4 linked regions of the Homo sapiens genome follow. The gene in region 1 interacts genetically with each later gene. Each region holds a gene or a part of one and is shown on either strand. Other genes may lie near its edges.

Evidence for each region.
Region 2: changes in RRM1 (region 1) and GFI1B together harm fitness more than expected from each alone (negative genetic interaction), as found in Homo sapiens cells (one large-scale study listed by BioGRID).
Region 3: changes in RRM1 (region 1) and SPOUT1 together harm fitness less than expected from each alone (positive genetic interaction), as found in Homo sapiens cells (one large-scale study listed by BioGRID).
Region 4: changes in RRM1 (region 1) and REV3L impair growth when combined (synthetic growth defect), as found in Homo sapiens cells (one large-scale study listed by BioGRID).

What each region holds. Positions count from the first base shown.
Region 1 is NC_000011.10:4,123,804-4,131,295, forward strand, and holds part of RRM1 (ribonucleoside-diphosphate reductase large subunit), read left to right. Parts: intron 1-2,880; coding exon 2,881-3,030; intron 3,031-3,231; coding exon 3,232-3,453; intron 3,454-5,270; coding exon 5,271-5,347; intron 5,348-7,492. UniProt on the Homo sapiens protein: Provides the precursors necessary for DNA synthesis. Catalyzes the biosynthesis of deoxyribonucleotides from the corresponding ribonucleotides.
Region 2 is NC_000009.12:132,977,280-132,985,465, reverse strand, and holds the start of GFI1B (zinc finger protein Gfi-1b), read right to left. Parts: upstream 6,773-8,186; 5' UTR 6,625-6,772; intron 6,191-6,624; exon of another isoform or gene 5,649-6,190; intron 1-5,648. UniProt on the Homo sapiens protein: Essential proto-oncogenic transcriptional regulator necessary for development and differentiation of erythroid and megakaryocytic lineages.
Region 3 is NC_000009.12:128,825,013-128,833,221, reverse strand, and holds the start of SPOUT1 (28S rRNA (uridine-N(3))-methyltransferase), read left to right. Parts: upstream 1-3,441; coding exon 3,442-3,477; intron 3,478-4,066; coding exon 4,067-4,112; intron 4,113-4,361; coding exon 4,362-4,487; intron 4,488-6,030; coding exon 6,031-6,190; intron 6,191-6,592; coding exon 6,593-6,682; intron 6,683-6,788; coding exon 6,789-6,838; intron 6,839-7,069; coding exon 7,070-7,200; intron 7,201-8,172; coding exon 8,173-8,209. Other genes in the region: KYAT1-SPOUT1 (uncharacterized protein LOC127739546), read left to right, coding at 3,217-3,477, 4,067-4,112, 4,362-4,487, 6,031-6,190, 6,593-6,682, 6,789-6,838, 7,070-7,200, 8,173-8,209. UniProt on the Homo sapiens protein: S-adenosyl-L-methionine-dependent methyltransferase that specifically methylates the N3 position of a uridine in 28S rRNA. Required for association of the centrosomes with the poles of the bipolar mitotic spindle during metaphase.
Region 4 is NC_000006.12:111,300,135-111,307,469, reverse strand, and holds part of REV3L (DNA polymerase zeta catalytic subunit), read left to right. Parts: coding exon 1-109; intron 110-7,313; coding exon 7,314-7,335. UniProt on the Homo sapiens protein: Catalytic subunit of the DNA polymerase zeta complex, an error-prone polymerase specialized in translesion DNA synthesis (TLS). Lacks an intrinsic 3'-5' exonuclease activity and thus has no proofreading function.

The sequences.
Region 1 (7,492 bases):
TCTCAAAACAAACAAACAAAAAACCAAAAACAACAACAACAAAAGTATGTAAGCTTATAAAGAGAGTCCTTTCAGTGAATGGTGAGATCAAATTCTAATCTCAAGTCTGTAAAGAGACTTCACAGAAGAATCAAGGCTAGAAATGGGACATGGATTTGGTGTTTTAAAAAAAAGTTTGAGAGAGGAGCTTTCCATTTGGAAAGAGTGGTCTGTATGATACACCAGAGACAGGGCTGGGTTTTATGCAGTGTGGCAAGTAAGTCTGTTTTGATGGTGCAAGTAGATTAATTATTGGAATATGGAGAGATGGCTATGGCTGGGGGAAGGGAGATAGAAGGTAGAAGCTGACACGTCACGGATAGGTAGCCCTTGTAGGTTTCTGAGAGGAAAATAGCATCAAAATGTTAAGATGAAAAGGAAGGTTCTTGCTTCTGGTTACAGAGTGTCTTGCTGTGAGAAGGGATTAGAGGTTAGCCTAGGGAGATTGTTGTACTAGTTGGATGACAGGCTGCTTTGATCTTGGATGTAAACTATGGAAACGAGGAAGGAGTAGATCCTCAATTCTAGGACCTTAAAAAAAAAGACAAATGAAAAGTCAGGAAGTAAATGGAAAGTGAGTTAAATATACTGCTAAGGTTACAGTTTAATTCAAAATTTATTGTGCAGTAGCTATATGTAAAACACAATGTTAAGTGCTCTGAGAATATAAATAAATATGCTGCCCTCTGGAAACTTCTAATTTAGTTGGAAGACATCGACATATATTGAGGTAACTATTATGCAAGACAGATTATATTATAGAGGCTAGAGTGACATTTTTAAAATAAAAATCAGATAATGTCATTTGTCTGCACAAAACTACTCTTTGGCTTGCTAACCCATGCAGAATTCCTTTTTTTTCGGGGGGCGTCAAGATTTCACTCTGTTGCCCAAGCTGGGCTGTGGCTCACTGCAACCTCAACAGAGTTCTTTCTTTTTGCAAATTGAGCTATAATTCACTCTTTTTAAAATGTACAATTCAGTGTTTTTTTTCTTTTCTTTTCTTTTCTTTTTTTTAGTATATCTGCAAGTCTGTGCAACCATTACCACTATCTAATTGTAGTATTTATTTATTTTATTTTTTTTTTTTTGAGACAGAGTCTTGCTCTGTCACCAGGCTGGAGTGTAGTGGCTCGATCTCGGCTCACTGCAACCTCCGCCTCCTGGATTCAAGCGATTCTCCTGCCTCAGCCTCCCGAGTAGCTGGGACTACAGGCGCGTGCCACCACACCCAGCTAATTTTTGTATTTTTAGTAGGGACGAGGTTTCACTATGTTGGCCAGGATGGTCTCAATCTCTTGACCTCGTGATCCGCCCACCTCAGCCTCCCAAAGTGTTGGGATTACAGGCGTGAGCCACCGTGACCGGCCTGTAGTACATTTTTATCACTGTAGATAATGAAACCCTTTATCCATTAGCAGTCACTCCCTGTTCCCTTCTTCCCTCAGCCCTTGACAACCACTAATATATTTTCTGTCTCTAGATTTGTGGACATTGTGGACATTCCATAGGAATGGAGTCATATAATATGTGGCCTTTTGTGTCAGGCTTCTTTCACTTAACATGTTCTTTTATTCATGTTGTAGCATGTATCAGTACTTCATTCCTTTCCATCCAGAGTTCTTACAGTGCCCTACAAGGTCCTACACAACTGGATAACCCACCTCATCTGCGGTTACTTTCCCCTTTGTTCACTTTGCTCCAACCCTATTAATTTTCTTGCTTTTTCTCAAACATGTCAACCATGCTCCTACCTCAGGATTTTTGCTCCTTCTTCCCTCTTGAATGTTAAAATGCACCCCCTCTTCCCATAGCCACATGATTTGCTTTCTAACCTGTTCAGTTCTTTGTTCATATGTAACATTTTCAATGAGGTCCTTCTTGACAATTCTGTTTAAAAATTATACCCCCTTCATCTTTATCCCCAGTACTCTCTGTCTTCTTTTCCTGCCTATTTTTCTTCCTGGCATTTATTAGACTTCTGTGATTCAAGCTATATTTAAAAAAATGGGTATTTGGCAACATGTGTAGAATGGAGTAGATGTGAAGGGCATCAAGAGTTCAACTGGGAAACTTTCAGTAGTCCATGTGAGAGAAGTTAAGACTTTGGCTTGGGATAGTCATAATCAAAATGGAAAAGAAAGTGTATTCATTCAACATTATCAAGACTTACTGTGTGCCAGATGTGTTGCTAGTGCTAAACATATAAATATAAATAAGATGATCCTTGTGTGAAGAAGCTCACTGCCTCGTGTAGTGGAGAAATCACTGGAAGAGCTTTTTCAGAAATCACAAATTGAGATCCATTGTTGCTAAGGGCTTGTCAGAATATCAGTGAAGGTGAGGTGGACGTGTGTGTTTTGAAGAACTCTGCAGTGATGGAAATGTTCTGTATCTGATGGCTATTGAGCACTTGAAATATGACTAGTGCAACTGAGAAACTCAAATTTTATTTCATTTTAAATAGATATATGTAGCCAGTGGCTACCATATTGCAGGGCACTCATCTACTGAATAATGAGATAGGTATATGTAAAAAGCTAATTATAACATAGTGTGATATATGTCTGGTAATAGAGCTGTGTACTGTGGAACATAGGGTTCTCTCTCTCTCTTACCTATTTTGCTGATGCATGTTATAACTAACACATATGACTAGGTATTGAAGAAATAGAATCAGTGGGATTTAGAAATGGACTGATGAATGATGAAGAGGGAGAAGTCAAATATAAAAATTTAAAATTTTAATGTCTGAGTATTAGAGGCTCACATGGTGGTGTAATTGACACAGGAAGTAGAAATAAAAATTGTGTGATTCTTGACCTGTTTTTTGCATTCCAGGTTGCTGTTTGTAATTTGGCTTCCCTGGCCCTGAATATGTATGTCACATCAGAACACACATACGACTTTAAGAAGTTGGCTGAAGTCACTAAAGTCGTTGTCCGAAACTTGAATAAAATTATTGATATAAACTACTATCCTGTACCAGAGGTATGAATAGATTTCTCTGCTTATTGGTAATTATTGAAATCCAAATTGAAAGGAATCAATCATGATCTTCAAGTCATCATTTAAATGGTTATCAATAAAATGGTTTGAGAAAAAGAGGTAGTCTGTCTCATTTGGTACAGAATGTTGCTTTTCCTGTTCAGTAATGTTTTCTCCTTTTCTTTAAAATCTGTTGACACAAAGGCATGCCTATCAAATAAACGCCATCGCCCCATTGGAATTGGGGTACAAGGTCTGGCAGATGCTTTTATCCTGATGAGATACCCTTTTGAGAGTGCAGAAGCCCAGTTACTGAATAAGCAGATCTTTGAAACTATTTATTATGGTGCTCTGGAAGCCAGCTGTGACCTTGCCAAGGAGCAGGGCCCATACGAAACCTATGAGGGCTCTCCAGTTAGCAAAGGAGTAAGTATATGGATGGAATTGTTTTTGCCTGTGAGTACCTGTAGTGGGCTGAATGGTGACCCCACAAAAGGATATGTCCACATCCTAATTCCTGGAACCTGTGAATTTAATTTCATTTGGTTCAAAAAAAGGTATTTTGCAGATGTAATTAAGAACCTTGAGATAAGGAGATTTACCTGGATTATCCAGGTGAGCCCTAAATCTAATGACAGTTGTCCTGCAAGAGGCACAGAAGGGGAAGCAACGTGACTATGGAGGCAGAAATTGGAGTGTTACAACCACAAGCCTTGGAATGCTGATAACCACTAGAAGTTATAAGAGGCAAGGAACAGAATCTCTTCTAGTGCCTCTGGAGGGAGTGTGGCCCTCCCAACATGTTGATTTTGGGCTTCTGGTCTTCAGAACTATGAGAGAATAAATTTTTGTTAAGTTACCAAGTTTTTAGTAATTTGTTGCACCAGCCATAGGAAACTTAAATACCTTTGTCCTCTGGAGTAAAAAGGATACTCTGTTTTAATCTCTTATTTAGAACTAGTCATTGCTAAAATAATGTAAGAGGGATGCTGCCAATGTTAGTTTTCTGTGGGTTAAAACATGGCATTCGTTATCTCACAGTTTCCACAGGTCAGGAGTCCAGACTTAGCTTAGCTGGGCCTTCTTTTCTGGGTCTGTGTTCAAGATGTTGGTAAGGGCTGTGATCTCGTCTGAGACACAGAGTTCTCTTCCAAGCTTACCTGGTTGTTGGCAGAATATATTTCAAGGACTCATGGCATCTTGCTTCTTTAAGGCCAGTGGGAGAGACCATCTCTCGTTTCAAAAGGGGCACAGTCTAGTCTCTTTTGAGGGTTTTCACCTGATAAGTTAGGTCCACATAGGATAATGTCCTCACCACCCCCCTGTCCCGCTTTTTTTTTTTTTTTTTTGAGACAGAGTCTCACTTTGTTACCCAGGCTGGAGTGTGTGGTGTGATCTTAGATCACTGCAACCTCTGCTTCTCAGGTTGAAGCAGTTCTGCTGCCTCAAGTCTCCCGAGTTAGTAGAGATGGGGTTTTGCCATGTTGGCCAGGCTGGTCTTGAACTTGTGACCTCAAGTGATCCGCCTGCCTTGGCCTCCCAAAGTGCTGGGATTACAGGCATGAATCACTGCACCTGGCGTAATCTTCCTTTTATTTAACTCAGAATCGGCTGATTTGCAACCTTAATTACATCTGCAGAAACCTTTCACCTTTGCCATAATCGCTGGAGTGACATGCATCCTATTCTCAAGTCATGTCCATACTCAAGTGGAGATTATAAATAGCCTGTGCACCAAGGTGTGGGAATCTGGGAAGCTGTCTTAGAATTCTGCCTTTCCCACTGCCTTTATTATCAGTACTATGATTCTTTACTATATAAAATGTTAATTTCATTTCTGACATTCCTGCTGATATTAGAAAATCTAATGTGTGGTTATTAGAAAATAGGTGTTTTTAGCTAAGTAAACAGATCAAGGGACAGATGAAGGCACTGAAGAAAGTAACATTTTTAGTGTTAAAAAAAGAGAATGTGTCAGCCACACCCTTTTATGAATGTTAGAGTTTTCTGGTTTGTAGATATGACATGGGATAATCAGTTTTCTTAGCCTGCTTCTGATCAATATGACTACATGGAATTTTGTCCAGGAAAATCTCTGGAGCTTGTATTCCTCATAGAGGTTGATTAGAAGACAGCATTTGTTGGGATGTGGGGACATGGCAGCTAGTCATTTGTGGGTTTTTTTTTTTTTTGGTCATAGTTTTAACTTGCTGTAGAATAAATTTGAGTTGTGTATTCCTTAGATTCTTCAGTATGATATGTGGAATGTTACTCCTACAGACCTATGGGACTGGAAGGTTCTCAAGGAGAAGATTGCAAAGTAAGTGAAAAGATGTAAAGTAGCTTTGAAGGCAGAAGGGTTTAGGTTCACCTTCTGGATCTTCAGAAGTTAGATATGTCATTTTAACTTCTTAAACTCATTTATTACAAATGGGGCTAAAATGGCCTATCTCACAAAACTATTTTGGGAAAAAACTTCGTAAGATAATATATATAGTAACCTGGAAGTTGCTTGGCACAATGAAAGCATTTCAGTACCTGGTAGGAATTACTATTATTAGTTGATCTTATTTTAGGGACTTAACACACCTAGATTAGGTAATTTTCTTTCTCATTAAGGCTTTTTTCCAACTATGATTTTTTTTTTTAAATGTTTTTCATTCTTATTTATTTCCCAATTTAGTTACATCGGGCATATAAATGGCTTTTGTTTGAATTGATTGTCATAGGAATAATGGATTTTGGAAGAGTTTTTGGAGGGTAATGTGTTTAGACTATATGAAAAAAAAATTTTTAAATTGAGTTTTTGTAGGCCTTTCAAACTAATAAGCATAAGGGATTCGAAGGCAGACAGAATGTTTTGCAGAGTGAATAACAAAGCAAATTGTTTTTGTTTTCTATCGTGATGACTTTGTCATTTATGGGTTAATGCATATGCAAAGTGATTAATATTTGGAGAATGAAGCAGTAGCTTTAAAATGCTCTTTAAAAAAAATAACCGTTTGCCTTAAAATTGTTAAATTAAAATTGTTTTCCTACTCAAATAATACATGTTAGAAAATTTAGGAAAACATAGATTTGGAAAGAGAAAATGAAAATTATACTAATACTGCCTCCCCCAGAAAACCTGTGTGCATCTTAGTGTCTGTCATCCTTTAGGTTTTCTTCCAAGAGTACACATACATGTGTATTTACATGGAAATTCAACTTTTAAGAAAATGGACCTGTACTGTATTTATATATATATATATATATATTTTTTTTTTTTTTTTTTCCCCTCAAAATACTATGGCTTAGTTTTTTATATACATGACTTTTTTTCTAATTTCAAAATTAGTATATGAACACAAATTTATTATTAATAAAGCTCAAATACAGAAATAAAATAGAAAGTAAAAGCCCTTCTTCATACTTCTGCCAACCATTTGTCTCAGAAAACAAACCAAAAAAGTAACTTATTCTTTTTCCCAGAGATAAGACTTGTTAATGGTGTGTATTTTTCTAGATCTTTTTCAGTACATTTGCAGATAGGTACACATACACGGTTTTGTCATATAAATGTGATCAAACTTGATGTATTCTGGGCTGGGCACCATGACTCACGTCTGTAATCCCAGCACTTTGAGAGGCTGAGGTGGGTGGATCACTTGAGGTCAGGAGTTCAAGACCAGCTTGGGCAACATGGCGAAACTTAGTCTCTACTAAAAATACAAAAATTAGCTGGGCGTGGTGGTGCATGCCTGTAATCCCAGCTACTTGGGAGGCTGAGACATGAGAATCACTTGAACCTAGGAGGTGGAGATTACAGGGAGCCGAGATCATGCCACTGTACTCCAGCCTAGGTAACTGTGACTCTGTCTCAAAAAAAAGACTTGATGTATTCTGAGACTTGTTATTTAGTGATTTATTTTGGAGCTCTTTCTCTTTTAGTACCTGTAGGTCTACCTAATGTTTTTAATTATTATAGACAATTCCATAGTTTGAATATATCATATATGTAGGACTTTTCACAACATTTACCTGTCTGTAGACAGATGATGTTGCTATTTTACAGATGAGGAAGTAAAGACATGAAGATAGTTGGTGGTTTGCTTGATACCTCACTACAAAGTGACAGAGTAAGGTGGAGAACCACCCCCCAAAAAAAGTAAATAAAAAAATAATAATAACTAAAAAGTAGAGAACCCAGTTGTATTAGTCGATTCTCACACAGTTATAAAGAACTGCCTGAGACTGGGTAATTTAAAAAGGAAAGAGGTTTAATTGACTCACAGTTCCGCAGGGTTGGGGAGGCCTCAGGAAACTTACAATCATAGCAGAAGGGGAGGCAAACAGGTCCTTCTTTAATACGGCGGCAAGCAAAGTGCTGAGTAAAGGGAGAAAAGCCCCTTATAAAACCAGATCTTGTGAGAACTCACTATCTCATGAGAACAGCATGAGGGTAACCTCCTCTGTGATTAAATTA
Region 2 (8,186 bases), on another chromosome or scaffold:
TGGAGGCCTGAGGCTTCATGGACACAGGAGAAGAGGCGAACAGCCCCCAGCTTCCGTGGGCAGCCCAGCATCACTACCAACCCCACCAGTCAGGGAGTGGGAGAAGAAACCAAGGACCACATCAGTCAAGGGACCATCCCAGGCAGAGTCAGGGAGTGACAGGGCTGGACCAACTTGACCACCCCAGGACTCCTGGCTTCCCCTGCAGAGCCCTCTGGAGCTGAGAGCCCTGCCTGGCCCCCAGAATGGTTCACATCCCTGCACTCAGCCTGTGAGGTTCCCCCGGGCACTCTGGAGAGCATCTTCTGGTGGTCCTCTATCCTTTCTGCCCCCACGCTGCACCCAGGCCGACACCAGGCCCATGCCTGAGGCGTCAGAGGAGTCCCACCCCCCCACCCCTTGGGCCAGCCGCCATGCAAGGCTGCAGGGGTGATAGGGTCCGGAGAAGGCGGGAGAGGGATCACAGCTGCTTCAGAACAGCAGTGAGGGCCTGGGTGATAAGGCCTTGGCCCAGGAGCAGGGTGGGAGGTGGGAGATTAGAGAATGCAGCTTGGAAAAGGGCCAGGGACTCACCCCTTCCCCAAGGAGATGAACCACAGCCAGGCAGAAGAGGGACCCGACTATGCCCAGGCCTGCTTCCCCCTGGCCCAGAGCCTGGGGGCATCAAGAGTTTGGACTGGGGGCTCTGCACAGGGGGCCAAGCTCAGGCCCAGCCCTTGCCTGCTGTAAGGCTCATCACTGAGCCTCAGTGCTCATATCTGCTAAACGGGGATCCCAATCCAACCACATGGGATGGTGGGGAGCGAGAAAGGACCTTTATCCATCAGGAGCGAGTGTGAGAGGTGCTCAGCATGTGCTCCCCCGCATCCCAGCACCCAGCCCACTGCAGGTGCATTCAAAGGACGGGGTAAGCCCTGTGCCAAGGGCTGCAGCAGCCTCCCAGAAGCCAGGGCCGCGCTCAAGGCCCTGTACTCTCTGAGCTCTAAAATTAGGAGAAAGGACCTTGAAGGCCTCTGGGGTCCCTTCCCGCGGTCAGATTCTCGGCTCTCTGAACACAGGCTCGGGCCGGGGGCAGCCCACGGCCTTATCTCCCAGGGACACGTCTTCCTCCTCTTGCCTCCTCCCCCTCCCTCACCAGGGCTCCCCACACCCCCCTTCCTTCCCGCTTTTAACTCTTCTTCGCTTCAAGAAAGCCCATGGGGAGGCCAGACCCTAGGGGGAGAGGAGGGGACCCAGTGAGCAGGAGGAGGACTGGGGGTGTGGGGTTCCCCTTGCACTTTGTTTTGAGGGGGCCTGTGAGGGTCATGGTTTGCCTATCAAAATATCAAAAGATGATCCTTTTTTGCGCATAATATTTATGAGGAAATCAACTAGAACCAAAGGTACTCGCCAAGGCTTCTGTGATAGAAGAGGAGCTGGTCAAACCTTCTGGCAGGGGGCTGCTTAGCCTGCCTTGTTTATTACACCTTTAATTCTGATGCTTAATCCAGATGCTGAGTCCCGCTGCTGTCCCATTTTATAAAGAAGGAGCTGAAGCCTGGAGGGCTCAGGACCCTGGGGCAGAGTGAGCAGGGAAGGACTGGGGTCTGTCTGGCCCCAGGCCTCCATGCTCTTGACTTTCAGCCCAGCAGGTGGGCAGTTACTCGGTGCAGAATGGGTGCCAAGTGCTGGGCAGTGCCCGGCATGGGCTTCTCTCTGCAGAGGGAGTGGAGCCGACGTGCTAGGGATGAAAACAGCAGTTTGAAGCTCCCTCGTGTGCCCGTGTCAAGCAGTGTCTTCCCAGGTTGCAGGTGGGAAAACTGAGGTGCAGAGAGGAAAGTGACTCAGACCCAGGGCTCCTGGCCTGTTAGGATTTTACTCTCAAGCCACTGTGCCACCCAGCACTGTCAGAGGTCCTCACAGCACCCGGTGAACACCGCCTGCAGCACAGAGGGAAATGCAGGGTGCTGGGGCAAGAGGGGAGAAAAATCAGGCCGGGTGCAGTGGCTCACACCTGTAATCCCAACATTTTGGGAGGCCGAGGCGGACGGATCACAAGATCAGGAGTTCGAGACCAGCCTAGCCAACACAGTGAAACCTCGTCTCTACAAAAAATACAAAAATTAGCCGGGCATGGTGGCACTTGCCTACAGTTCCAGCTACTCAGGAGGCTGAGGCAGGAGAATCGCTTGAACCCGGGAGGCGGAGGTTGCAGTGAGCCGAGATCACACCACCACTGCACTTCAGCCTGGGTGACAGAGCCACACTCTGTCTCAAAAAAAAAAAAAAAAAAAAAGGAGGGAGAAAAATCAAACCCTCTGACCCTCAAGTCTTTTCCAGGCTCCTAAAAGACCCACATGGCTCCTGAAGAGTCTTGGTGGGGCCAGGCCAGGGACAGACTTCCCTTCAGGAAGCATTGGTATTCTCCTGGGCTCAGGGCCTAAGGAGAACCCAGGTCAACTGACTCTAACCCTGGGCCCCACAACAAGGACACTTTCTAGCGCTCATGAGCCCTGGCCAAGCACTTTTCACTTAGGCACAGGGCAAGATGGGGCTGGCTTCTGGGGTTCTCCAGCCTCAGGAAGGTGATTCTCATGCTTCTTCTAGTGATCTCCCCTGAGCCCCACACCCGCTTTCTTGCCTCCCCCCAGTGTTCTCTCCCCTGAGCTTGGCAAGTGACAGTGACACAGCCAACGCCACGGCCAAGCCCTCTGGCTCACAGAGGGGCCAAATGCACCCGGTGAACTTCCTTTTGGCCCCTGTTAGCAGAGTTGTTTTTTTTTTAAAGAAAAAACAGGAACCAATCACCTATACTGTAGTTAATTAACAACCACTTGGTTTTGATTGACATGAACTCCGTTCTGAGAAGGAGCTAAGAGCAGAGATTATGAAAGAAGCTCAGGAATTCTTCATAAAACAGAGGACTTGATGGTATCGGACCTCCGGAAAGAGGCTCACTGTTATCACTCCATAACCCCCGATCCTGATAGAGTCCCCCTGACCCTGAGTCAGAATCTCAGTCAGTGCTTCTTGAAGACAGGCGACCCTGCACCCTGGCAGGAGCCAGCACCCTAACTTCCAGTTGGACTTGGGTCAACAGGCCTGTGATGTCCCTGTAATGAGGCCCCTTTGTTGCCCAAGGAGTTGAGTCTGATTTGGGGTCCTGGAGCTTGTGACCGCATCAGCCACCAACCTGGGGCTTGGTTTTCCTATCTCTTAAAAGGGACGGTTGGGCTAAGAGATTTCTAAACTTCCCTTTTGCTCTAAAATCCCATGTAGAATTCGTTGACCTTCAGTGAGAGATTGAACCACCTTGACTAAAAGACTTGTCACTCGGGTTCCCCTTTTGGGAGGGTTGGGTAAGACTCAGCTGGTTCTCAGGGTCAGCTACAGAGAACCTTTTTGACTTCCTTTATGTTTAAAGACTCAAGGGAGGCCGGGCGTGGTGGCTCACGCCTGTAATCCCAGCACTTTGGGAGGCCAAGGCAGGCGGATCACCTGAAGTCAGGAGTTCAAGACCAGCCTGGCCAACATGGGGAAACCCCGTCTCTACTAAAAATACAAAACTTAGCTGGGTGTGGTGGCAGGCACCTGTAATCCCAGCTACTCGGGAGGCTGAGGCTGGAGAATCACTTGAACCCAGAAGGCGGAGGTTGCGGTGAGCCCAGATGGCGCCACTGCACTCCAGCCTGGGTGACACAGCGAGACTCTGTCAAAAAAAAAAAAGATTCAAGGGGAAAACAAGACTTGTCCGTGGAGGAGTCGGGGGAAAATGAGCCCAGGTCAGGCCCAGGGGCCCCAGCAGAAAGTAATCATCATCATCATCACCATCATTATTATTATTATTTTGAGACAGAGTCTCACTCTGTCACCTGGGCTGGAGTGCAGTGGTTTGATCTTGGCCCACTGTAACCTCCACCTCCCAGGCCCAAGCGATCCTCCCATCTTAGCTTCTCGAGTAGCTGGGACTACAGGCATGCACCACCACAGTTGGCTAATTTTTGTATTTTTTGTAGAGACGGGGTTTTGCCATGTTGCCCAGGCCGGTCTAAATCATCATTTTTATTTGAAATTTAGAAGGAGTTCTCAAATGTCTCCTCCAAAGCTCAGAGAATGCAATGTCAAAAGTGAGTGAATCTACTTCTGGGTATAGACCCAAAATCATTGGAAGGGGAGACTCAAAGAGATATCTGCATACTCATGTTTATAGCAGCACTATTCACAATAGGCAAAAAGTGGAAGCAACCCAGGTTTCATGGCAGATGAATGTCCAAACAACATGTGGTCTATGGCCAGACTTAGTGGCTCACACCTGTAATCCCAGCACTGTGGGAGGCCGAGGTGGGCAGATCACCTGAGGTCAGGAGTTCCAAGACAAGCCTGGCCAAAATGGCGAAACCCCACCTCTACTAGAAATACAAAAATCAGCCAGGCATGGTGGTGGGTGCCTGTAATCCCAGCTACCCAGGAGGCTGAGGCAGGAGAATCGCTTGAACCCGGGAGGCAGAGGTTGCAGTGAGCCAAGATCGCACCATGGCACTCCAGCTTTGTGACAGAGACTCTGTCTCAAACAAACAAACAAACAAACAAAATGTGGTCTAGACATATGATTGAACATTATTCGGCCTTAAAAAGGAAGGAAATGCTGGCGCATGCTACAACATGGATGAACCTGAAGGATTTATGCTAAGTGAAATAAGCCAATCACAAAAGGACAAATACTGTGTGATTCCTTATATGAGTCCCTAAAATAGGCAATTTCATAGAGACAGAAATAGATAGAGGTTGCCAGAGGTGAGGGGAAGGGAATGGAAGTTACTGTGTAATAGGTATGAAGTTTCAGCTTTATGAGATGAAACAGTTCTGTGGATGGATGGTGGTGATGGTTGCACAGCCATGTGGGTGTACTTAATACCATTGAATGGTACGCTTGAAAATGGCTAAAACGGGAAATTTTATGTTATATGTATTTTATCAAAATAAAAAGACAAGTGAGTGAATGAAACTCTTTCTGCATATCTCTATATTATAGACTAAAGCAGCTCCCATTGGCTTGAATTCCTGGCAAGGAACACACGAAAAGCCTCCCTCTAGACTAAGAGGGGGTGGTGTTTGCTGATGTTTCAACCAAGGGTCTGGATATTGTGGCACAGACAGTGAAGAATCCCATTTGATCAGGCTGTTTTCCCTGGGTGATCTGGAGCCATCTGGTCCCAGAGCCTTTGAAAATCCTTGTACTGTCCAATAAGATTCCCACCCACCCTACCCTGCCCCGCTGAAAGCTTCGGGGCAATGGTCTGCGCTGGTTTTGAGTGATTCCATTAATCAAACCGAAACCAGGTATAGCTCTCCAATGTTCCCCAAGAACTCTCTTCAGGAAGACCAAACTCTGACAGAAAGAGCAAGGGGAATTACGCATTTTCTTGTCCAAAGAATTCCTTCTGCAATACTTCCGAGGACAAGAAACTTGACACTTTGCTAGACTTGGAAGAAATATTCTGCCTGTTGCCTACTAAGAAACATGCAGGCGCGTCCAGGCGGTCAGGTGCAGCTCAGCTGGCTTCTAATATCTACCAGACTCATGCCCACAGATTGTAATCGAATTTACTCCCTAAGAACTCGTGAAAGCTCTGGACTTTCTCCCCGGAAAAATGTACACGGGCACATACCCACGGCGATTCTGCAGACCTCCTCTTCACAAGTCCTGTTTTAGAGTGAGCATGTCTCCTCAGATGCCTCAACACTTAAACTTGGTTTTTTTTCTCCAAAAATAGGTGGAAAGGGCTAACAACAGCCACAGGGAAAGGCGAGCTGAAACAGTACCTCTCCATGGTCGGTCCTATTGTTCCTGGAGCCTGGGCAGTGTGTGGGAGAGGGCAGCCCTGTCATCTCCCCTTAGTAGGCTCTGGAGGGGAGAGCGCCTGACTCTCAAAGTGTCCTGGGAATTTGGCTGGGCGCAGTGGCTAATGCCTGTAATCCCAACACTTTGGGAGGCTGAGGCAGGTGGATCGTTTGAGGTCAAGAGTTCGAGACCAGCCTGGCCAACATGGTGAAACCCGTCTCTACTAAAAATACAAAAATTAGCCAGGCGTGGTAACACGCGCCTGTAATCCCAGCTACTTGGGAGGCTGAGGCAGGAGAATCGCTTGAATTCGGGAGGCAGAGGTTTCAGTGCAATCGCACCACTGCGCTCCAGAGTCTCACTCTGTCTCAAAAAAAAAAAAAAAAAAAAAAAAAAAAGTGTCCCAGGAACTTTAGTCAAGTCCCTAAAGTCTGGGACTGTCTCCGAGGGGGAACACAACTCAGGCACTTGGAAGTGTGTCTCCCTGAGCACTGCCCAGGTCCCCAGGACAGCTGGGTTGTGGGTATGACTTTGTGCCCGAAGGTGACGTCTGTCAGCCTAAAATCAAATTTTGAAAAGTGTTTCTGCGCAGCCGGCAAAGGCGCAATTCCTAGCACAGTGGCTCAGACGAGGCTACGTCCTCACCCTGTTTCTCCCTTGGCTCCTTGCCTTCCAGAGCTTTTCCAGCCCACCTCACCTTTCCTAGGACCGCAGGAGGAGCCAGGGAGCCTGCTGTGAAGCCACCTGCGGCGCACAGGCACATTTCAAAACAAAAGCGTAGAAACGCATCCTCCAGCACTCACCTGTCCGGAGCTGTCCCTCGCCTGGGTTCTGCCGGAGCTTCCCGAGGTGGGAACTGCAAAGCCTCTCTCGGGACTGGCCTCCACTCTGTCAACTGTGTGACTCTTTGCACAAATAGATACTTCTCCTTTTTGCTCTGTCTCTCTGTGTGTTTTTCCTCTTCTGTTCCCCTCCCTGATTTTCAATCTGATTATTTGTGTCAAAATCTGGCGGTGAACAAGCAGCCAATGAAGAGAGCGCGGGAGCTCAGCCGTATTTGCTTATCAAAACTTTCCAGGACACAAGACTTCGAATTCTCATTTCTAACCCTCGACACTTGGAGCGGCACGCTTTCTCTCTGCAGAGAAATTCAGAATTTCGCTGGAAATTTTGAATAACATCTGCACAAAAAGAAAGTGATGGCTAAATTATTAAATTTTAAAAATTAAAGTTAGAAAAAGCTCTAACTTATAAAACTCGATTTTGCATAGGGAAGTCATTGCTCTTTGGTTTTTTTCTTCTTTCTTTTCTCTTGCCTTTTTTCTTCCTTCCCTCCTTCCCTCCTTTTTCCTTCCTTCTCTTCCTCCTTTCTTTCTTCCTCCCTCCCTGCCTCCTTCCTTCCCTTCCTTATTTTCCTTCTTCCTCCCTCCTTCTTTCCTTCCCTCCCTCCCTCCTTCTCCTCCTCTCCTCTCTCTCTCTTCCCTCCTTTCCTCCCTCCTTTTTTCCCTGCCTCCCTCCTCGCTGCCTCCTCCCCTCCCTCCCTCCCCAAGTTCAGCACCCTGAGGCTTGTGAGAGCCAGGCTGGTGCAATGCCCCTAGTACCCGAGCCGGCCACATGCATAGAGGCCCCTCTTGTCCTTGCAGAGGTCATATCTCAGAAGAGACATCAAATTTGCATTTCCCCCAGATATGACCTTTGAGCGGGTAGAGGCACCCTGGAGGTGTGGCAGTGAGTTCGGAGGCCAGGAGACGCTCGGCCTGCTGAAGCTGCCATACAGATTGAAGGCCAGGTGCCAGAGCCCGTGTGTGCTGCCCTCTGGTGGCAGACAAAGTGATGGGGAGGCCAGTGGGGGCCTCTGGGGTGTCCCATTGATGCTGGGGGGAGTGAGGGCGGTAAAGCTTGGCTGAGCTGGCTGGGGCATTTCTTCCCATTTGGCAGGGCGTCCCATCCCCTGGCTCCCCACCTTCTCCCTCCTCCTCTGGCCCCCGCCTCCTCCCGCTTGCAGGATGACTGATTTATTTCAGGAGGTTTTGCATAAGATGAGAACGCCACAAACAGAGCACTGTTAGGCTGCTTTGTCTGCTCTTCCAGCCCGGGTGCTGGAGATATTATGTTTCCCTCATAAAGAAAACAAGTCTGGTGACAGGAAGCCCCAATTTAAACTGCAAGTCCAAGGTTCAAAATGAAGAAAAAGGGGTGTTTCAGGCGAGGTCTTTCTGCTGGGCCAGCCCTGGAGCACCAGCCAGGAGGACACAACCCTGTGGTCACCAGGCCTCAGTAATGCTGGGGTGTCAGTCCCAGCCCCAGGCTACAGACAGCAGACCACTGCTCCCAGCTCTGTGGTCTCTCTTGGTGGAAAGAAACA
Region 3 (8,209 bases), on another chromosome or scaffold:
ACCTCACCTTCCCTGGCTCATCTTGGCCTTGGGGAGTTGCCTTTAGGCTTGAGTCCTCAAGCCTCTCCTTTTCGTCCATAATAAAATGTTTAAGTTATTAAGATCCTTATTGACGGCTTCTCTCTGCTTCACACTCATGCTGATGGCTGATCTAACTTGTGAAGAATGCCCAGAAGAACCTCAGACACCCCCACAACTTTGTACAAATGGTTACTGTAGTCACATAGTGGCACAACCAGGCCTAGCACCCAAGGCCCTCAAATGAATTCCTCACTATTAATCTTTGTTGTTGTTGTTGTTGTTGTTGTTGTTGTTGTTGTTGTTTTTGAAACAGAGTCTCGCTCTGTCCCCCAGGCTGGAGTGCAGTGGCATGATCTTGGCTCATTGCAACCTCCACCTCCTGGGTTCAAGCAATTCTCCTGCCTCAGCCTCCTGAGTAGCTGGGACTACAGGCACCTGCCACCACGCCCGGCTAATTTTTGTGTTTTTGTAGAGATGGGGTTTCACCATGTTGGCTGGGCTGGACTCAAACTCCTGACCTCAGGTCATCTGCTCGCCTCGGCCTCCCAAAGTGCTGGGATTACAGACGTGAGCCACCATAGCTGGCCTCTCATATTAATCTGATGGTAGCAGTTATTGGTGCTGGGTGTGGTGGCTGGGGTGGGGGTGTCATATGTGTTTGTGTGTGTGTGTGTGTGTGGAGAGGATTGGGGTTCGTGACAAGGAAGACATGGACATTCCCACAGGGGTGAGAGAACAGCACAGTGGGGGCCAGGAGGACCAGGGACTTAAATAATTCTCAGGAGGAGGACTGAATGTTGATCGTGCAAGCCCTACCTGCGAGGCACTCAGACGCACATCATCTTACACAACCCTCTGAGACTGAGACCTGAGTTATCTCCAGTTCACAAGAGAGGAAAGCACTCTGGAGGTGAGGTGAAGTGGTGTGCCCAGGCCTTCTAGCTGGCCCCGATTGAGTCTCACTGGATAGCAATAGTAGCTCCTGAATTTCTTTGGAAGGTGGTGTTAGGGGCCTGGTCTTGAAGTTGCATTTGCATAGCAAGCGCATGGGTTTGGCTCATATCATATGTTTAACTGGGGGAGCTGATAGGAATATATCATATAATAAAATACATATTTGGTGTTTGCCCCTGGTCCTTAGTAAAGAATTCCTAAAATCCTTGGAGTTTCTGGAAGATAGGCATGTCTTGTTAGTCACATGGAATCCCTCTGCACTGTACGATTACGGGGTCAGAACTTTTAGCCCATCGGGCCCCCTCCATCTCTGCCTCCATGGAGGTGTGAGGGACTAGACTTTGAGCCCAATCACATGGTCCATGTCTGTTTGTTATTGTTGTTTTGGGGGGATTTTTGTGTTTGTTTTTTCAAATGGCCAATGTCTTAATCAGTCATGCCTACAAAATAAACCTGTCAAAAATCACAACAAATTTAGTATAAGATCTAAGTTCGAGACCAGGCACGGTGGCTCACACCTGTAATCCCGGCACTTTGGGAGGCCGAGGCGGGTGGATCACGAGGTCAGGAGATCGAGACCATCCTGGCTAACACGGTGAAACCCTGTCTCTACTAAAAATATAAAAAATTAGCCGGGTGCAGTGGCGGGCACCTGTAGTCCCAGCTACTCGGGAAGCTGAGGCAGGAGAATGGCATGAACCCAGGAGGCGGAGCTTGCAGTGAGCGGAGATCACGCCACTGCACTCTAGCCTGGGCGACAGAGCAGAGCGAGACTGTCTCAAAAAAAAAAAAATCTAAGTTCGAGACCGGGCACGGTGGCTGACACCTGTAATTCCAGCACTTTGGGAGGCCGAGGCGGGTGGATCACCTGAGGTCGGGAGTTCAAGACCAACCTGACCAACATGGAGAATCCCGTCTCTACTAAAAATACAAAAATTAGCCGGGCTTGGTGGCAGGCGCCTGTAATCCCAGCTACTTGGGAGCTTGAGGCAGGAGAATTGCTTGAACCTGGGAGGCAGAGGTTGCAGTGAGCCGAGATCATGCCACTGCACTTCAGCCTGAGCAACAGAGTGAGACTAGATCTCAAAAAATAAAAGGCATTAATGGCTCAAGTCTATAATCTCAGCCCTTTGGGAAGCCAAGTTGGGAGGATTGCTTGAACCCTGGAGTCTGAGACCAGCCCTGGCAACATAGTGAGACACTATCTGTACAAAAAGAAAAAAAAAAATTAGTCGGGCATGGTGGCTCACACTTGTAGTCCCAACTAATATAGTCTGTTAATTAAAAGAGAACGAGGCCGGGCGTGGTGGCTCATGCCTGTAATCCCAGCATTTTGGGAAGCCGAGGTGGGCGGATCACCTGAGGTCAAGAGTTCGAGACCAGCCTGACCAACATAGAGAAACTCCATCTCTACTAAAAATACAAAATCAGCCAGGCGTGGTGGTGCATGCCTGTAATCCCAGCTACTCGGGAGGCTAAGGCAGGAGAATCGCTTGAACCCAGGAGTTGGAGGTTCCTGTGAGCTGAGATCGAGCCATTGCACTCCAGCCTGGGCAAGAAAAGCGAAACTCTGTCTCAAAAAAAAAAAAAAAAAAAAAAAAAAAAAAAAAAAAAGGCCGGGTGCAGTGGGTCACGCCTGTAATCCCAGCCCTTTGGGAGGCCGAGGCTGGAGGATCACTTATGGTCAGGAGTTCAACCAGGCTGGCCAACACGGGGCCAACATCAACACCATCTCTACTAAAAACACACACAAAAAAATTTGCTGGGCATGGTGGCACGCTCCTGTAATCCCAGCTTCTTGAAAGGCTGAGGCAGGAGAATTGCTTGAACCCAGGAGGTGGAGGTTGCAGTGAGCCGAGATCGCGCCATTGCACTCCAGCCTGGGCAATGAATCGAGACTCTGTCTCAAAAAAAAGAAAGAGTACGTGAACGAATCTATAAGAAACCTGGAGTAAATTATCTCATTTTCAGCTCTGAATCACACTACAGCTCAAGGCCCCAGGGTCCCCATGTATAAAGCCTTCCAGGAGCTAGGCGTGGTGCTGCGCACCTGTGGTTCCAGCTACTCGGGAGGCTAAGGTGGGAGGATCCCTTGAGCCCAGGAGCTCAAGCCTGCAGTGAGCTAGAATTGCTCCACTGCACTCCAGCCTCGGCAACATAGCGAGACCCTGTCTCAAAAAAAATTATTTTTAAACAAGTGAACTACTCAGAGGTCTGAGTGTTGTATTTGTCCCAACTCAGAGGGGGGCTCCGAGCCATCCAAAATTCAGCACAGTACCCGCGATGCCGCCTATTTGGACACCTACTCTGCCCAACCTACTCCAGCCCGCGTACCCCTGCAGCCCGTCGGGCGCCCAGGCCACGCCCCTGGGCGATATTGGCTCTCCGATTGGACAGCTTAATGGAGGTGTGGCCGGAAGAGGCGAGTCTCATTGGCAGAGGCGGGACCGACGGTGTGTGCGGAACATGGCGGAGCGCGGCAGGAAGCGGCCGTGCGGCCCGGTAAGTGCGGGCGGCGGGACCCCGTGCAGGGCAGCATGGTGGAGGCGTGAGAACCAGTGGCGTGGGGGCCTTCGCCGGGGCCGGGCCGCGCCTCCTGCTGCCTGCTTCCCGCTGATCCCAGGCCGGAAGCCCCCGAAGGTGCCGCGTGAGCCTCAGCAGGATGGGAACAGCGCCCGTGTCCTCTCCGGAACCCCCTGCGGCTCCCTGGCCCCCGCTGGATTACGGAGGCGGGACCCTGCTCGCCTCCGGATGCTGAATCCGGAGCCCTTTCGTGGCTTCTGGAGCCCTTTTCTGACTTCCAGGGCGACTGTGGGCAGTGCTGTACCCTGAGCCTCAGTTTTCTCTTCTGTTTTGTGGGAACTCATTCGACAGTTTCTTGAGTGCTTTCTGTGTGCCAGGCTGGGTCCCAGGCGCTGGGGATACAGCGGGTCCCTGCCCTCCTGCCGCTTTCTGGGGCAGCAGTTCGCAGAGGTTCCTTGGCTTCCTTGCCGCCCCGTGTGGAGGGGCTGGCTATGGTGCAGCAAACGGACCCCCTCCAGGTGTGACCATCAGCCTCACACTCATAATCCTCCTACCACTCCTTCTCCAGGGTGAACACGGCCAAAGGATTGAGTGGCGAAAATGGAAGCAACAGAGTAAGTAAGGGTGGGTAAGAGTATCTTCCCATAGGCCACTCCACCAGTGCTCAGTCAAACCCTGGAGAAAGACACCAACTTTGTTCCCTCTGGGTCCTGCAGCACACAAAGTGGGGAGGCAGGGGCCGGGAGCCCTGGGGAGGCTCCCTTGCTGCCCTCTGGCTGCTCACCCAGCAGCTCTCCAGAGTCCAGGCTGACCCAATGAGTGGGAACTGTCTCCTTGGCCAATTAGGATGTTCTTTTATCCAGAGAAAGAGGAGAAAAAAAAATGGAAGGATCTCAAGCTGATGAAAAAACTGGAGCGGCAGCGGGCACAGGAGGAACAGGCAAAGCGCCTGGAAGAGGAGGAGGCAGCGGCAGAGAAGGAGGACCGCGGTGAGCTGGGGTCTTGGGGAGGGCCACAGGTTGTGGCCCACGGTAGTTGTCCTGCAGGCAGAGCAGAGATGTCTTATCTGAAAGGGCCTTTACAGACCAGTAGGTCCAAACATCTTGTCCTGATGGAGAAACTGAGGCCCAGAGAAGGGAGGGAGCCAGCAAACTGAGTTCTGACCTCCTGCTTAGGTAAATTTCAAGCCTATGGAAGGCAAGCCTTATCTCTCTTTTTTTTTTTTTTTGAGATGGAGTCTTGCTCTGTTGCCCAGGCTGGAGTGCAACGGCGCCATCTCTGCTCACTGCAACCTCCACTGCCCAAGTTCAAGCAATTTTCCTCCCTCGGCCCCCCGAGTAGTTGGGATTACAGAAGTGTGCCACCACACCTGGCTAATTTTCGTATTTTTAGTAGAGACGTGGTTGCACCATGTTGGGGAGGCCGGTCTCGAACTCCTGACCTCAGGTGATCTGCCCACTTCAGCCTCCCAAAGTGCTGGGATTACAGGCATGAGCCACCGTGCCCGGCCCAAGCCTCATATCTCTTAACTTAGACCTCTAGAACTTCATGATCTTCCTGATTTTTTGACTTTTTTATTGAGCATTTTCTGTGTGCTTTAATTTCATTTTTCAATTATTTTGATTTCATAATAAAAATGAAAGAAAACTACAAAGAAGACAGGAACAATCCCAGCAAACATTGTAGCAAAAGCTTGTCCAAACAATTATAGCTACTTATCCATGTGTAGCAAAGTACAGATACAATGTTACAACAGTGAAACCATGTTATCTATGTGCTTCTTGGGCTTTTTTGTTTGTTTTTGAGACACAGTCTCGCTCTGTTGCCCAGGCTGGAGTGCAGTGGCTCGATCTCCGCTCACTGCAATCTCCACTTCCCAGTTCAATCGATTCTCCTGCCCCAGCCTCCGGAGTAGCTGGGATTACAGGCATGCGCCACCATGCCCAGCTAATTTTTGTATTTTTAGTAGAGACGGGGTTTCGCCATGTTGGCCAGGCTGGTCTTGAACTCCTGACCTCACTCAGGTGATCCGCCCGCCTTGGCCTCCCAAAGTGCTGGGATTACAGGCATGAGCCACCTTTTGTGTGACCTTGGGCCATGTATTTGACTTCCCGGGGCTGAAGGCCCCTGGTCTGTAAATGGGGATAATGGCAGTATCCTCACTAGGGATCAGGTTAATGGCTATCGGGTTAATGTGCACACACTAAAGACTTATTAGATATCAGCTTTCATTTTATCCCCATTTGATAGCTGGAGAACTGAGGCAGTAAGTGGGAGAGCCAGGATGTGAACTTAGGCCATTGCTACTAACCGCTCCACAGCCTCGCCCAGTGGTTTGCCCTGCTCAGAGGAGCCATGGAGACTGCTGGGAGACTGAGGCCCAGAGAGGGGAGCTGGATCTATTTTGCTCATCTCAAAATTCCTCCCACTTGGGAAATTCTCAAACCATGGGCGCTAGGGACAGAGGAAGGGAGAGAAAGGTAGGGGGCCCTTGCCTCTCACACTGGCTGGGAACATCCCTCCCCTGCTCAGGGCGGCCCTACACACTGAGCGTAGCCCTGCCGGGCTCCATCCTGGACAATGCTCAGTCGCCGGAGCTTCGCACCTACTTGGCCGGTCAGATTGCCAGAGCCTGTGCCATCTTCTGTGTGGATGAGATCGTGGTGTTTGATGAGGAGGGCCAGGATGCCAAGTAAGGGGCCATCCCACAGGGTGCCAGGGTTCAGGGAGAGGGAGGGGCTGCCGGGATGGGCCGAGGCTTCACCATGGCCCCGTCCACATGCCTGGCTCTTCCCTCGTGCCCTGCCTGAAATATTCCCTGTGTAATCCTTAGTGGGTAGAGTTGCCAGGTGGGGGTGATGACTACAGAGGTGGGATTGGGAGCCAGAAGGCCTAAACCTGTATCTCAGCTGTCACCCCGGCTGGAGTGCATGCAGTGGCATGGTCATGGCTCACTGCAGCCTCTACTTGCTGCACTCAGATGATCCTCCCACCTTAGCCTCCTGAGTAGCTGGGATTATACGCGTGCACTTGTAGACAGGAGCTCTTGAAGGGGCCACAGCTGGATCCTGAGCCCCCATCTCTCTCTCTCCAGGACTGTGGAGGGGGAATTCACAGGAGTTGGGAAGAAGGGGCAGGCGTGCGTACAGCTGGCCCGGATCCTGCAGTACCTGGAGTGTCCACAGTAAGGGGGTCACTCCCCTAAGCATGAGGGAGGGGTGTGTCAAAGTGGAGACCAGGTAGGAGGCGGCTTCCCCTGGGAACATCCTGAGGTCAGCATTCTTTCCTAGGTACCTGAGGAAGGCGTTCTTCCCCAAGCACCAGGATCTACAGTTTGCAGGTAACGCTGTATGGGCCCGCCCCCCCATTTCCCCTGGATCATGCCACAGACACTGAGACCACCCAGTCCTACCCTGCGCTGTCCAGGTGGGAAAGCAGGCCTGGGAGAGCAAGACCTGTGTCTGATGCCAAGACGCAGGTCTGTGGCAGAGCCGGTACTCCGCTCCAGGGTCCCCACTGCACCCTGTGTGCCCTAGCACTTCCCAGACTCTTCCCGGCTCTGCCTCCACAGGGCTCCTGAACCCCCTGGACAGCCCCCACCACATGCGTCAGGATGAGGAATCCGAGTTCCGAGAGGGCATCGTGGTGGATCGGCCCACCCGGCCAGGCCACGGCTCCTTTGTCAACTGTGGCATGAAAAAGGTAGGAACAGAAAGATGGGCTAGGACACACCTCCAGGACACACCCTGGCAATGGAGGGCAAGCAGATGGATGTTGCGGAGAGCCCTGGACCTGCCCGAAATCCCTCACTGATGCAAATTTGGGCCAGAGAATTGTGCAAAATGGGGCTCAATAGATAAAGCCAGGAATGAATTTACTGTTGCTTAAAAAGCAAATCAACAGAAGACAGTCCTCATGCTCCAAACAAAACCCTGCAGAAACAAGTTGAAAGTCACTCTGGAGCTGCTCCCATGTGGCACAGAGCCAAGCTGGGATGAGGGCATTAATTTGCCGCCTCTTTATCCTCAAGCCTCCTCAAATCAGAGGCAGAAACCTTTACATGTATGGAGTCCCTTCCTGTCAGAAAGCACAACCCAAGCGCAGTGGCTCACGCCTGTAACCCCAGCACTTTGGGAGGCTGAGGCAGGCGGGTCATTTGAGGTCAGGAGTTTGAGACCAACCTGGCCAATATGGTGAAACCCTGTCTCTAATAAAAGTACAAAAATGATCCAGGTGTGGTGGCACGCATCTATAATCCCAGCTACTCGGGAGGCTAAGGCAGGAGATTCACTTGAACCCAGGAGACAGAGGTTGCAGTGAGCTGAGATCGTGCCACTGCACTCCAGCCTGGGTGAGAGAGCCAGACTCCATCTTAAAAAAGAAAAAAAAGAAAAAAAAGTTGCAGAGCTACCAAAATGTAGAAAACTGAGTTTCATCTACTTCTATCCTGTGCCATGAGCGCCCCAAAGGTGCATGTTTGGCCAGTGACCTGTGTTTTGCACAAATGATCTCTTGTGAGCAGGTTCAGCCGGTGCCAGGGGTGGAGGGTGGCAGGTTGACCTGGACCCCTTGGTCCCTTGCCAGCCCCGGGGCTCCCCTGGTGGCATCTGGAAGAGCCGTGGCCCCTGCTGATCTTGAGAGGAATGGCACCCATTTCTTCTGGCTTCTCCCCAGGAGGTGAAGATTGACAAGAACCTGGAGCCCGGGCTTC
Region 4 (7,335 bases), on another chromosome or scaffold:
AACTCAGCATGGCATCTGTAGTAAATGTCGGAGCCAACCTCAGCATGTTGCAGTCATCCTCAACCAAGAAATCCGGGAGTTGGAACGTCAACAGGAGCAACTTGTAAAGGTACAGTTTTGTTCCATGGGCCCAGAATCACAAGCAGTCTGATCTTACAGGAAGATATAGTCACTCTTGAATTATAGTGTGAGATACAAAACTGGTGTGAAAAGTGAAATGAAGAGTCTAAATGATAAACTTCCTAAAAATCTCAAAAATATCATAAACTATTAATAATGGTTTGTTTTATAATTTATTTTTTGTTTTTTTTATGGAATAGTGTGTTGTGTTTCTTAATAGCTACAACAAGAATGGCCATCCATCCAATTTCTTTTATAATACAGGTTGAGCATCCCTAATTGAGAAAAATCAAAATTCAAAATGCTCCAAAACTGAAAGTTTTTGAGCACCAACGTGACTCTCAAAGGGAATGCTCATGAGAGCATTTCAGAGTTCAGATTTTCAGATTAATGATACTCAACCAGTAAGTATAATGCACTTATTCCAAAATCTGAAAAAATTTGAAATCTGAAACACTTCTGGTCTTAAGCGTTTCAAATAAGGGATACTCAATCTACAGTATTAAAAAGAAGAAAGGAAAAGTCTCAATTGCTCTACTAGTGCTTACCATTCTTTAAAGAAAAATACCTAGTTGTCTTAGAGAATTGCTTGCTAGTAAACTTGGAAGGTTTATAATTCTGTGAGTCCAGGTAGATGATTAATGGCATGATTGAGTCATACTGTGTGCCACAGACTGTTCTAGGCACCTTTACAGGTGAGTAAACTGATACAGAGAGTTTAAGTGATTTGCATGTTACACTGCTAAGTGGCCGAGCTGGGATATAGACATAAAATGCAAGGATGATTTTTCAAGTATGAGAATTCTAGCAGAAATAAACAACAAACATCTCAAAGTAAGTTGAAGAATGAAATCTAAAGAAAAATTTGCCACCTCGCACCCCCCAATAAAATCATTACTCCTTATTGTTGATAAGTCATCTCCGTTCTGTCCCTACCTGCTATCCCTCTGTCACGATTTCTTGCTCTTCTCTGTCACACTCTACCTCGACCCATACCATATTGAACTTCTCTTAGGTCTGTGAATGCCCCTCGCCGCCTCCTCCTGGCCTTTAAACACCCTGCTCCTTCTGCCAGGAACACTTTCCTCTACCTATCCCACCCCACCCCCCATCTTCTGAGGAATCAGCTGAAACCTCTGGACTGGGTGAAGCCTTCCTTGCAGTAGGCTCCTGCCATAATCTCCTCTGCTTTACTGTGATTTGGGGTTTGTCTGTCTTCCTCACTAAATAGCAAATGAACCAGTGAGGACAGAGGCCCAGTTCTTTGACTGTCAAGTCAGTTATGCCTAGCATATAGCCAAGCCCATGGGGCTGGTCTGTAAATATTTATTGAATAAATGAACAAGTTCCTGGTTAATGCATGATTAAAGAAGGAATATATCACTGGAGTTATTACCAACCAACTTTCAGCCATTTTTTACCAGTTTTGTGGTTCTAGTCAGTACAACCACTGAAGTCACTGGGTGCTCCCAGCTTCTATTTATTTAATAGACTTCTGTCCTGATGGCAGCAGCCAACTCTCATAGAAAATTCCCTTGCTGGATCCTAGTATGACGCCTAAATGAGAGCAGGACCTCCAGGGCTCTGCTAAGGTCAGGCTGTTAAATGGTCCTTTCCTAGACTTTCTTATGTTTTTTCTGCACTCAATGACAAACACATCACTACTTGGTGCCATCAATTTACCCAGAGCCCATCCTCCTTCAACATTAGGTGTTCATTCTTTTTTTCTTTTTATTTATTTATTTTTATTTTATTTTATTTTTGAGGTAGGGTCTCACTTTGTCACCCAGACTGAAATGCAGTGGCATGATTACAGCTCATTGCAGCCTCAACCTCCTGGGCTCAAGTGATCCTCTCAGCTCAGCCTCCCATGTAGCTGGGACTACAGGCATATCCCACCATGTTTTACTAATTATTTTTTTTTAGACATCGGGTCTCACTATGTTGCCCAGGCTGGTCTCAAACTGTTGGACTCAAGCAATCCTCCCACTTCAGCTGCCTAAGGGCTGGGATTACAGGCATGAACCATGATGCCCGGCCATCTTATTTCTTATAAAAATACAGTTTAAAAGAAAGTGATGCCACAGCCATAAAAAAAGAATAAAATCGGCCGGGCGTGGTGGCTCATGCCTACAAATCCCAGCACTTTCGGAGGCCGAGGCGGGCGGATCACGTGAGGTCGGGAGTTCGAGACCAGCCTGACCAATATGGAGAAATTCCATCTCTACTAAAAATACAAAATTAGCCAGGCGTGGTGGCACATGCCTGTAATCCCAGCTACTCAGGAGGCTGAGGCAGGAGAATCGCTTGAACCTGGGAGGCAGAGGTTGCAGTGAGCTGAGATTGCAGCATTGCACTCCAGCCTGGGGAACAAGAGCGAAACTCTGTCTCAAAAAAAAAAAAAAAAGAACAAAGAACAAAATCATGTCCTTTGTAACAACATGGATGCAGCTGGGGCTATTATCCTAAGCAAATTAACGCAGAAACAGAAAACCAAATACTGCATGTTCTCACATATAATGAACATTGGGTACTCATGGACATAAAGATGGGAATGATGAACACTAGGGATTCCAAAAGGGGGGTGAGGAGAGGAAAAGTTGAAAAACCACCTGTCAGATACTACATTTACTGCATGGGCAACAGGATCATTAGAAGCTCAAACCTCAACATCATACAGTATACCCATGTAACAAACCTACATGTATACCCTTGGATCGAAAAAAAAAAAAAAAAGAAAAAGCGATGCTATTTATAAATAATGATGGTTTGTCATCTTTCAAGAGCTATTTTAATTTGAGGTGTTTTTCAAGAACGTTCAAATGAATGTCTCCCATACACTAATTTGTAGAAATTTTTAATGAAGCAGAAATTACTAGAGATGTAATGAGAATTAGAAACACATCCAAACAGGAGATTTTACATCATTCTCAATCCAAGACCAATCAAGTGATCAGAAATAAGTGAAATTATGGAAATTGTAAACATTATAAGTCAGACCTTGTGATTATATATCAAACTCTGTAACCCAGTACCAAAAAATGTACTTCTTAAGTGTTTCTAGAATGTTTTAAATGTCTCCCATGCACTAATTTGTAGAAATTTTTAATGAAGCAGAAATTACTAGAGATGTAATGAGAATTAGAAACACATCCAAACAGGAGATTTTACATCATTCTCAATCCAAGACCAATCAAGTGATCAGAAATAAGTGAAATTATGGAAATTGTAAACATTATAAGTCAGACCTTGTGATTATATATCAAACTCTGTAACCCAGTACCAAAAAATATACTTCTTAAGTGTTTCTAGAATGTTTTAAAAATATCTGGCCAGGTGTGGTGACTCATGCCTGTAATCCCAACACTTTGGGAGGCCAAGGCAGGTAGATCACCTGGGGTCAGGAGTTTGAAACGTTTGGCCAACATGGAGAAACCCCAGCTCTACTAAAAAATACAAAAATTAGCCAGGCATGGTGGCATGAGCCTTGTACTCCCAACTACTCAGGAGGCTGAGGCAGGAAAATCACTTGAACCCAGGAGGCAGAGGCTGCAGTGAGCCGAGATCACACCACTGAACTCCAGCCTGGGTGACAGAGCAAGACTCCATCTTAAAAAAAAAAAAAAAAAAAAAAAAAAAAAAAAAAAAGTCATAGTCTGTTAAAAAAAAAAAAAAAAAGCCTCGGCTGGGGATCATGGCTCACGCCTATAATCCCAGCACTTTGGGAGGCTGAGGCAGGAGGATCACTTGAGGGCAGGAGTTTGAGACCAGCCTGGCCAACATGGCAAAACCCCATCTCTACTAAAAATACAAAAATTAGCAGGGTATGGTGGCAGGCACCTATAATCCCAGCTACTTGGGAGGCTGAGGTAGGACAATCGCTTGAGCCAGGGAGGCAGAGGTTACAGTGAGCTGAGATTGTGCCACTGCACTCCAGCCTGGGCAACAGAGTGAGACTCCATTTCAAAAATAATAAATTAAAAATAAAATAATAAAAATTAAAATTTAAAATTAGCCAGGCATGGTGGCGGGCACCCGCAATCCCAGCTACTAAGGAGGCTGAGGCAGGAGAATCACTTGAACCTAGGAGGCAGAGGTTGCAGTGAACTGAGATCATGCCACTGCACTCCAGCCTGGGCAACAGAATGAGACGCTCTCTCTCATCTCAAAAAAAAAAAAAAAAAGAAAGAAAAGAAAGCCTCAGTACATTTCAAAAAGTAGAAATATTACAAATGAATGTAATACAATGCTATAAAATGGTAATTAATTACAAACTAAAAAAAAAAGTGATCCTTCCACTTGTAAATTCTGTTAAACAAAATGAAAACACTGCAAATCAGATTCTAGATGGCAGACCTCAGAGAAAAATTCATCACCTTAACACTGTTAATCATAAACATGAAAGAATGAAAGCAAATGAAGCAAGCATCTGACTGAAAAATTTTTTTTGAGACGGAGTCTCACTGTTGCCCAGGCTGGAGTGTAGTTGGTGCAATCTTGGCTCACTGCAACCTCTGCCTTCCAGGTTCAAGCAATTCTCCTGCCTCAGCCTCCCGAGTAGCTGGGATTACAGGCATGCACCACCACGCCCAGCTAATTTTCGTATTTTTAGTGGAGACAGTTTCACCATGTTGGCCAGGTGGTCTCAAACTCCTGACCTCAGGTGATCCACCTGCCTCTGCCTCCCAGAGTACTAGGATTACAGGCATGAGCCACTGTGCCCAGCCTTGACTAAATTTTTTTTGAACAAGAAAGCCAAAGGATAGTAAAAAGAATAAAGATTAAAGCAGATATTTTTTAAGTGCCTGCCTCCCTATGTGCTACAAAGTAGATGTCCGGGTTGGGGCACTAAAGTTTTAAATGTAAGCCTGAATCAAGCTATAATGCTCAGGGTTTAAACCAGTAAAGGATCTTGAAACTAAACACTGAGTTAAATTTAGTGAGTCAAGTAATTCCATCCTGGCTTATTTATCAGACAAGCACAGAAAGAGCTTAAATATTTATCAGTTTGTCCTGGCACCTGAATGTAACTGCAATTCATAGAGCTGTAATACAGAAATTCTATATTTGGGAATAGATTTGAGTCTCTTGGCAGAGATCTAATTAGCAAAGGCTTCATCATAGAACAGCATACTCAGTCTTCATGGAGCATACTGAAGCACATGTTTGTAAGCAGTCTGCTTGTGACAATATCATAATATTGGATACAGTAACCAGTCTACTTAGAAAAAGTGTGCCCTTCGGTTAACTGGAAGATAACTGGGGCAAAGAACAAAACTTCACTGGCCTGTGAGCCATCTCTGAAACTGAAACCCTTTGATAAATATAGATCAAAGAATTCACTAGAGCGTATTTGATTTCTCTTAAAAGACAATCCAGAGTAGTTGTTGCCATTTGGTATGGCTTTTTTAAAATCACTTGTCTACACTATTCAGGTGAAAGTCGGCCTGCATTTTCTTAACCTTTGGAGTCTTCATTGGCATCCTTTTTAATTTTTTTATGTTCTTCATGTTTTATAACCTTTTTTTTAACTATATATGCAACTTGAGACTTTAAAGTATTTTTAAAAATTGATCATTGTGTAAAACATTATAGTGCTTCTCTTTTTAAAAATTGCCTTATGATTTATTATTTTCCTTAAGATCAGATCTTATTATACATCCAAATCATCTGGGAAGCCTTAAGAAGTACAGATTCTTAGGCTTTCATGCCTGGAGATTCTGACTCATTATGGGTCTGGGATGGGGCACTTGTTTATTTTTAAGCTCATTGTTAGCCAGGGTTAAGAACCACTGGTCTGCACCACTACTTTCAAATTCACATTATTTGATTTTTTTTTTTTTTGAAATTTTACAGCTGGGTCTCTGGGGGTGACATCACATGTTGGCAGGTTCCTTGATGCCCCTTGAGCCACAAAACCAGCAAGTTTTTATTAGGGGTTTCAAAAGGGGAGGGGTGTACGAATAGGGAGTGGGTCACATGCTTCAAAGGCAGTAAAATATCACAACAGCAAAGAGGCAGAGTGAGATCACAAGGCCAGGGTGAAACTAGAATTACTGATGAAGGTCCATGTCGTGCTGGGCACACATTGTCATTGATAAACATCTTAACAGGAAACAGGGTTCGTGATCAGACAACCAGTCTGACTAGAATTCGCCAGGCTGGAATTTCCTAATCCTAGCAAGCCTGGGGGTGCTGCAGGAGGCCAGGGCATATTTCATCCCGTGTCTACAACTGCATAAGACAGACACTCCCAGAGTGGCCATTTTAGAGACCTACCCCTGAGAATGCATTCGTTTTCCCGGGGTTATTCCTTGCTGAGAAAAGAATTCAGCGATATTTCTCCTATTCGCTTTCTGAAAGAAGAGAAATATGACTCTGTTCTGCCAGGCCCTGCAGGCAGTCAGATTTTATGGTTATCTCCCTTATTCCCTGCAAATCGCTGTTATCCTGTTCTTTTCAAGGTGCTCAGATTTCATATTGTTCAAACACACATGCTTTACAAACAATTTGTGCAGATAACGCAATCACCACAGGGTCCTGAGGCGATATACATCCTCAGCTTACGGAGATGACGGAATTAAAAGATTAAAGACAGGCATAGGAAATTATAAGAGTATTGATTGGGGAAGTGATAAATGTTCATGAAATCTTCACAATTCATGTTCAGAGATTGCAGTAAAGACAGGCATAAGAAATTATGAAAGTATTAATTTGGGGAACTAACAAATGTCCATGAAATCTTCACAATTTATGTTTTTCTGCTGTGGCTTCAGCAGGTTGCTTTTCTCTTCTGGAATACGAAAAAGAGTAACTTTTTTATGATTGGCATATGAGAATATAGTCTAAGTACTTTGAAAACGTGTTTATAGTTCATGTAAGAGACATTCTTTGGTAATTGGGTAGCTTATGTAGATTTTAATAGGATTCCATTGTAAATGAAAGTTAATCTTAGGAATTAAATGAATCCTTAGGGAAATTTGTACTCTATCTTTACAAAATAATATCCTTTAGAAATGTCTCAACATAGGGTAGTCTAGGCTTCCAAGAGATTAAAATTAATGAAAGTTTCTGTAATGTATGTCTGCCAGTAATCTGTGGTAGTCTAGAAAGTAGGGATTATAAAAATTTGTTGTTTGCATACACGCATAAAAACTTTCCTATTATTTTTTGTATTTCTCTTATGCTTTCAGATATGCAAGAACTGTACAGGTT